Regions from separate parts of the Homo sapiens genome. Here region 2 is linked to region 1. A link means that fine-mapping ties the variant in region 1 to the expression of a gene that starts in the linked region. Tissue or cell type: whole blood. Region 1 holds a variant in brackets; the other region holds the start of a gene. All regions are shown on one strand. Distances are from middle to middle.

Region 1 (4,247 bases):
AATAGGCTTAATTTTTTCTCTGTTTCATGGACTTGCTTGCCCTTATGCTATGGGATAACACAGCACAAAGACCCTCACAAGACACTGGCAACATGGTCTTTTGGACTTACTAGCCTCCAGACTTACAAGCAAAATAAACTCCTATTCTTTATAAACTATCCAGTCTGTGGTATTACGTTACAGCAGCAGAAAACAGACTAAGATAGTCAGATTAGTCTGTTGGAAACATTTCTCCGATGTTTGATTTAAGGGAAAAAATACTGGAGGCTGGGAGATCAGTTAAGAGATGATTTGCTATGGTACCAGGAAAGGCTAATGAGAAGTAAGGCAATAGTGGTGGGGACAGAGAGGAGGATATTTATACAGGTGTTAGAAAGGTAGCATTGGTTGGATGTGGTGGCTCACGCCTGTAATCCCAGCACTTTGGGAGGCCAAGGCAGGAGGATTGCTTGAGCTACTTAGGAGGTTGAGGTGGGAAGATTGCTTGAGTCCAGGAAGTTGAAGCTGCAGTGAGCCATGATTATACGATTGCATTACAGCCTGGACAACAGAGTGTAGCTGGAACTATAGGCACGCACCACCATGCTTGGCTAATTTTTTACACTTATTTTTAGTGGAGATGAGGTCTTGCTATGTTGTCGAGGCTGGTCTCGAGCTCCTGAGCTCAAGCAATCCTCCCACCTTGGCCTCCCAAAGTGTTGGGATTACAGGCTTATGTCACCTTGCCCAGCCTGTTTCTAGTTTTGGCACCTTCAGTTTAATTTTCTGCACAGTCACCAAACGTGATTTACCTAAAACCCAAACGTGCCTTGGCCTTATTTAAAAACTTAAATTGTTTCCTTATTGTCCACAGGCTAAAGTCCAAGATCCTTAATGTGGCACACAAGGTCCCTGTGATCGTTCCCTGGCTGACACCTCAGCCTCTTCTTGGAGGCTTCCTCCCTGCTAACTGTGCCCCAACAACCTGGGTGTGTGCAGCTCTTCTCTGACCCAGCCATTTCACCCGGGGGCCTCTGCCAGGCTGCTCCTCTGCCTTGTGGGTCCCCTGCACTTCATTTGACTCACTCCTCTGTTAGATTCAGCTCAGGCTACTTTTTTGCCCAGAATGGCTTTCCTGTTGATTCCCCAACTCCAATGGGGTTACAGGTCTCTTTTTCCTCCACGCTATATACATATACTGTTATTGTGCTGAAAAGATCTGCTTACATATCTATCTATCTTTTTTTTTTTTGAGATGGAGTCTTGCTCTCTCGCCTAGGCGGGAGTGCAGCAGCGTGATCTTGGCTCACTGCAACCTCCACCTCCCGGGTTCAAGTGATTCTCCTGCCTCAGCCTCCAGAGTAGCTGGGATTAACAGGCATGCACAACCATGCCCAGCTAATTTTTTGTATTTTTAGTAGAGACAGGGTTTTACCATGTTGGCCAAGCTGGTCTTGAACTCCTGACCTCAGGTGATCTGCCCCCCTCAGCCTCCCAAAGTGTTGTGATTACAAGTGTGAGCCACCGCTTCTGGCCCATATCTATCTTCTTTAATGGCCTGTTGCCTTATGGGACACAGTGACTATGCCTTATATATTCTTATGGCCCTAATAGATTAATGATCAATAATGTTTGCAGAATGAACAAATGCTGTAAAGGAACCAAATGAATAATAAAACACACATATAGGAAACTATTGAGTGAAATTCAAAGCACTGTGTGATTAGTGCACAATATATGTGGGACAGACTCTAAGTTCTGTAGGCTGGAGCATTCTATGGGGGGATGAGTTCTCTTCCCTTAGTAGAAATTAAGGCTGTTGATACTGTAAACATTTTTTTTTAATTTTGCAAAACTATAATTGGTATTCCAGAACTGTGCTAATTAAAGTTTGTTTTCTGGACCAACATGGGCTTCACTTGCGTGTTTGTTAGAAATGCAGGCTTTAGGGCCTCACTCCAGACCTACTGAATCTGAATCTGCATTTTTAACAAGACTCCCAGGTCATTCGAATGTGCATTCCATTTTGAGAGGCACTGTCCGAGAAAACAATTCTGTTGCCTGGGAAAGGATGGAGCCTGTGAGCTCAGGTCTTAGGTCTCTTTTGCTCCTCAGGAAGTAGTGCTCTGTGGGGCTCGGCTGACGGATGTTAGAGCCAGACTTCAGGAGAAATAGAGCAAAGGACTTGAATCTAGTAGGTGTGACCAGATGAGCAGGTCTGGAGACTCAGCATCTCACAGGCAGGGTTAAACAGGAGCTGTCTGGGGACTGGGACTGGGACTGGGACTGGGCTTGGCTAAATAGGACTAAATAGATCTAGCCAAAATCAGGCTGGCTAGGTGTGGCAGTAAGTGGGCCTAGATGGAAGTGGTAGGCCAGATAGTCAGAGGCCTGGTCAGCAAGCATGGGTCAGGGTGAGAATCAGATGAGGTAGTTCCTGGGGCTGGGGCAGGGACTGGGGCTGGGCCCTCAGCTCAGAAGGTCAGGGATAGGGCAAGCTTCAGGAATGGGGTGAGGCTCAGGGTTGGGGTAAAGGTCAGAATGTTCAGTGCAAAATGGTTTTTGGCAAT[C/T]TGAAGCAATATTTTTACATTTTGAAGGGGTGGCTGTTAAAATGTCCTGCTTTTTACTGAAGTTAGCAGACTTTCAGGCCTCTGTTTCTAAGGACATCTTACAGGGAGCATGGGGTGAAGTTGCAGAAGAGCGCGTGCCCTCCCAGCACCCCAATGTGCTCTTGTTATATGTATTTGTTGTGTGACTCCTGCATGTCATTCTCTTGTGTTCAAATACGATGGTTTGATATTTCACAGCAAAAATAATTGAAACCATCCAGATACACGTTAGAATGTGAACTATTATACACTTAAGAAGTTCTAAGACCTCCCTTTTCTTTCTGTCAGGAGAGAGAGTTGTGGATCAGAATTTGGAGCTCGCACCCATGACCTGGGAGGGACTGAGTGACCTGTTAGAGCTAGTGCAGGCTCAGAAACTCAGTAATTCCTTGGTGCAGTCATATTAGTGTTATCATTTTGGAAGGAATATGGTAAAAATGTTAACATTAGGGGCAATATATGCTTTCTTTCTTTTCTTTTCTTTTCTTTTTTTTTTTTTTTTGAGATAGAGTCTTGATCTGTCGCCCAGGCTGGAGTGCAATGGCACCATCTTGGCTCATTTCAATCTCTGCCTCCTGGGTTCAAGCAATTCTCCTGCCTCAGCCTCCCGAGTAGCTAGGATTATAGGCACCCGCCACCACGCCCGGCTAATTTTCTTTTGTATTTTTAGTAGACATGGGGTTTCACCATGTTGGCCAAGCTGGTCTCGAACTCCTGACCTCAGGTGATCCATTTGCTTGGCCTCCCAAAGTTCTAGGATTATATGCGCGAGCCACTGCACCCAGCCTATGCTTTCTTAATATGAAACTAGATTGTCTTGACTTGATAGAAAAATTAATCCTTGCTATGGTGAGGTGTGCTTGCTTCTTTGGTAACCTGTGAAGAAACTGGATGCAGCATGCAATGTCTTCTTCATTCATGGAACCAGAGATAGTTCCTTGCCACTTTGGACCTGATAAAATCTGTAAAGAAGAAAGATTGTTATTATTTGGCTAAAATCTGAAGCTTAACATGGGTTGAGAGAGAGGAAGGGTCCACAAGAAACTCTTTTCTTCTTAAAACCTAGATCTAAAAGGGCTGTTACTTATGTGATACAAGGGAATTAGCTATTATTATTATTATTATTATTATTATTTTTGAGAGGGAGTTTTGCTCTGTCGCCCAGGCTGGAGTGCAGTGGCACGATCGCGGCTCACTGCAACTTCCACCTCCTGGGTTCAAGCGATTCTCCTGCCTCAGCCTACTGAGTAGCTGGGATTACAGGCACCCGCCACCATGCCCAGCTAATTTTTGTATTTTTTTTTTTTTTGAGACGGAGTCTCGCTCTGTCGCCCAGGCTGCAGTGCAGTGGCACGATCTCAGCTCACTGCAAGCTCCGCCTCCGGGGTTCATGCCATTCTCCTGCCTCAGCCTCCCGAGTAGCTAGGACTACAGGCACCCGCCACCACACCCGGCTAATTTTTTGTATTTTTAGTAGAGACGGGGTTTCACCGTGTTAGCCAGGATGGTCGCGATCTCCTGACCTCATGATCCGCGCGCCTCGGCCTCCCAAAGTGCTGGGATTACAGGCTTGAGCCACCGCGCCCAGCCAATTTTTGTATTTTTAGTAGAGATGGGGTTTCACCATGTTGGCCAGGCTGGTCTCAAGTGATCCACCTG
Region 2 (4,140 bases), 37 kb before region 1:
CCCGGCTAATTTTTGTATTTTTAGTAGAGACAGGGTTTCACCGTGTTGGTCCGGCTGGTCTTGAACTTCTGATCTCAGGTGATCCGCCTGCTTCGGCCTCCCAAAGTGCTGGGATTATAGGCGTGAGCCACCGCGCCCGGCCCCGTCTAGTTTCTTAATTTCCCTCTTCACCTACGATATTATCTTCCACTCCAACATTCTGGTCTCATTTCTCCTTGAGAGAAATCTACATGTCTAAATTTACTAGGCTGGTCTAGCACGCTCTTGTGTGTTCCCCTCCCTCCTTTGCCCCTCTATTTATAGCCAGGCTAATTTTGGGTGGCCTCTCTCTCTCTTCTTTCCTGATCTTTCCTCCTGTGGTGGTGAGGTGACTTCTCAAATATTTGGAGAGAGGAGGTCAGAAGCAGATTCTTGGCATCTGATTTCAGCCCTGGATCACAGAAGCCAGTGGAGTGGGAATGGAGACAGGCAGAAGCTGCAGGTGCAGATAGGAGGCAGCTTGGGCTCTAAAGGCATTTTGAGCTGGGTCGGGGGCGGGGGGACCTGGGCAGGGAGTCAGTAGTCCCAGTTCTGTCCTAATTTTGCAATTCTGCATTCCCATGTCAGCTCTTCTCTACTGTCTGGGGCTCTGAGATATTAAAAAGGATGGGGAGGGCATGGTGAAAGTAGAATCCTGGTGCCAGCCCTGCTGACAGCATATGTATTTCCTTATAGTACCTGTTTAGAGATGTGTTAGTGCTCTGGAGGGGATAGCCACAGGTGTAGTATTGGAAAACAGAGGGCCAGACTTCCAAATGTCTGTTAACTTATCCAAGGCAAAGACTGTCCCAGGGCAGCAGAGTAAGAACCCACTTTTTTTTTGTTTTCAAAGAAGTATAATCCTGAACAATGAAGTAGGAAAGACAGAACACAGGAAGAGGAAGGAGGTAGGACACTTATTGGAACTTTTAAGAAAGGGAAAGAGAAGAAAGAATCGTAAGAATATGATAGTGTTTGAAGGGCAGAGACAACACTAGAAACATTGAGAAATACTCTGAGAAAGATTCCAAGTGTGGCAGAGACAAGAATGATGACAAAATAGAATTTGGGATGAGACAAAATCAGATAGTGAGAGAGAGAAGGGAAGATGGACAGATGTATATTCACAAGACCAACACCAGTAAGCAAGGGGAGTAGGAAGGGGAAGTGGGAGCATTCGAGGTTCCCATTATGCCAAATTATTTCCTGTCTCTCCTTCTGGCCCCATTTCTGTATCGGAGTTATAAATAGCAGAGAGTTGGAAAGTGTCCCCCCACCCCCTTGCCTCTGTCCCAGCCTGAGGGAAAGGGAGAGGAAGAGGGACAGGCCAATGGGTCCCTGTGGAGATCCCATCTCAGCCCCACCCAGGTCCTGCTGAGCCAGTCCAGGACTCTGCCCCCTCCCATCCCCTTTCATGGATAGGAAATGTGCAGTCCTGGGACGGGTCTGGTAGCTGGGGACACCCTTTACATCCCTCTGCCTCTTGGGTCCAGTCTCTTTCATCTTTGCCTTCTTTGACACCCACTCCCCTCCCCACTGCTTAATTTCCTCTTCCTGTAATCATCCCCAGTCGTTTTCTTTTCTCCCTTCATTCCATCCCTTGTCAATTAATCTCTTGCCCTTCTTTCTTCCTCTCTATTCCTTTCCTTTTTCCATTTCTCCATTTGCTCCCCGTATCTCCCGAGTTTCTCTCTCTCTTCTTGCCTCTTTTTCTCTGTTCCCTTGAATCCTGACGATGTGGCTAGCACTGCTGTGGTCATTGCCGGGCTGGGGGCGGGGGATGGGATAGGATGGGGGAGGGCAGCGGTCTGATCCCAACAGCAGAAAGAGTGCTCTATGTGACCATGGGGGAACAGGGAGCACTAAGATGCCACGCTGCACCCAGGCCCAGGACGGCTCCCCTTTCATTTCCTCTCTATCTGCACATCTCTCTTCCCAGGTTGTCTTTTAGCGTCTTCCCAACTTCTCATCTCTTACCCTCCTTCCTCTGTTTCAGCCCCTCTCTTTCTATCTGTACTTCTCTCCCTCCGCATTCCAAGGCGCCGCCTCCACCACTCCCGGGGTGGGGATGGGGTTGGGGGAGAAGGGGAGGAGAGCGCCGCGCAGGGGCGGAGCCGGAGACGGTGCTGGGCTTGGGGGGCGTGGTGGTGGGGGGTCAGCAAGGCTAGTTTCCATCCCAGCCACCAGCCTGGGCATCCCCTTGGAGACGGGCTTGGGTCTCCACCTGCCGCGGGAGCGAGGGGCGGGGCCGGAGGCGGGGCCTGAGTGGCGTCCCCGGGAGAGGAGGCGGGAGCCGGAGTGGGCGCCGGAGCTGCGGCTGCTGTAGTTGTCCTAGCCGGTGCTGGGGCGGCGGGGTGGCGGAGCGGCGGGCGGGCGGGAGGGCTGGCGGGGCGAACGTCTGGGAGACGTCTGAAAGACCAACGAGACTTTGGAGACCAGAGACGCGCCTGGGGGGACCTGGGGCTTGGGGCGTGCGAGATTTCCCTTGCATTCGCTGGGAGCTCGCGCAGGGATCGTCCCATGGCCGGGGCTCGGAGCCGCGACCCTTGGGGGGCCTCCGGGATTTGCTACCTTTTTGGCTCCCTGCTCGTCGAACTGCTCTTCTCACGGGCTGTCGCCTTCAATCTGGACGTGATGGGTGCCTTGCGCAAGGAGGGCGAGCCAGGCAGCCTCTTCGGCTTCTCTGTGGCCCTGCACCGGCAGTTGCAGCCCCGACCCCAGAGCTGGTGAGTCACCGCACCCGCCCAGAGTCGCCATGCCCGAGCCACAGATCGTCCCCCTCCCCACTCTGTGGGCCTCCTCATTTCTCTGTTTTCTAGCCCCACCAAGACCTAGACTGCCCACAGACATCCCACATCCCAACCTGGAGCCTTGCCTCATCTGGCTTGCGTCTGAAGCTGCACTTCCCGGCCCTGAGACCAGTATTTTGCTTTAGGGATGAGTTGGAAAGCAAGGTTCTTGTCTTGGCAGCGAACCATCTCCTTCTTCTGGGCCTTTCCCCCAACTTGCATCCTTGATCCAGCCCCAGGGCCTCTGGCTCCCCTGCTTCTTCCAAGGGCTGAATTCCCCAAGGGAGGGAGACTGTCTGTCTCTGCTTAGAATGGGAGGAGATGGAAAGGACATAGAAGTTGAGGGTGCCATGAGAGGGATGCATGCAGGGCAGACTCCAGAAATAACTTCCTGCTAGAGCATTGCCATGGATGGAATGAGGGCAGCAGGGCACTGGAAGGCCAGGAGAGAGCTTCCACTTCTGTGGCTTAAGACCACGGGAAGATTGGGAGAGGATCTGCAGGTCTGCCAACCTGCAGTAGGTGGCTTGGTGATAGAGAGTGGCAGCAAACTGAACCCTCAAAGTACTAGTAGCAGTAGTAGTAGCCGCAGCAGCTGTAGCAGTGAGAGAGATCCAGGAAGGATGCTGGCCAGGCTGCTCCCCTTCCTCCTCCTTAGCAAATTTCCAACTCCAGGAATCTCAGCAGCTGGGAAGGGCCAGGAGGAGTAAGGGGTGGAGGACAATTCTAATTTTTTCTAATCAGTTCAGGACCCATGGGAGATGGATATACTTTTGTGAGGGGCCTGTGACTGGTCATGTTGCCTGTATCCTTGGCTCTTGCTACATGTCTGATTGTAAAAAGGGAGGCCAGAGGTGAAGAAAGCTTCTCACCTGCTCCTGCTAGGGGGCTTTTCTCTCTTCAACCAGTGCCTAAGCCACATTAAGTATCCATTACTGGGATCAATGCTGTCCACTGGGACTGTCTTCTGCCTCTACTGTCGGTCTGGGGGCAGGGGGCAGGGACAAGAGCTCATTTCTCCTCACTTGCTTGGGGAGTGGGGGCCTAGCTCTAATCTTTCTTCTTCCATTATCCCTATCATCTGGTAGCAGGGTCGGTGGTCCCCAAAACTTTGGGAGAGATAGAAAGCAACGGACTTCATCTCCTCTTCTGTTTACCATCTGCTTCCTCATTCACCTTTGCTCCCTCCCTCCCTTCCTCCCTCCTTCTCCATCTGTCAGAGTTCGAGGACTGGAGGCCTTTTTAGGACATGCTGAACTCTCTAAGCTATTTCCAGGCAAATTCTAGGTTATTTTTAATAGCTTGGTCTCTTGTCATTTCCCCCTCCTCTCTG

The links. PIP is the estimated chance that this variant, and not a neighbour inherited with it, causes the effect.
Region 2: ITGA7 starts here. The variant in region 1 is fine-mapped to the expression of ITGA7 in whole blood (TOPMed, PIP above 0.99).

What each region holds. Positions count from the first base shown.
Region 1 is chr12:55,668,598-55,672,844 of GRCh38, reverse strand. No RefSeq gene overlaps it. Among named protein-coding and RNA genes, the nearest start is that of TMT1B, 11 kb to the left of the region's middle. The variant C/T (reference allele first, on the strand shown) is at 2,550.
Region 2 is chr12:55,706,081-55,710,220 of GRCh38, reverse strand. It overlaps ITGA7 (integrin subunit alpha 7), which reads left to right and starts at 2,317. Exons shown (of 25, transcript NM_002206.3): 1 at 2,317-2,744. The coding sequence starts at 2,539. RefSeq lists a silencer at 2,194-2,403.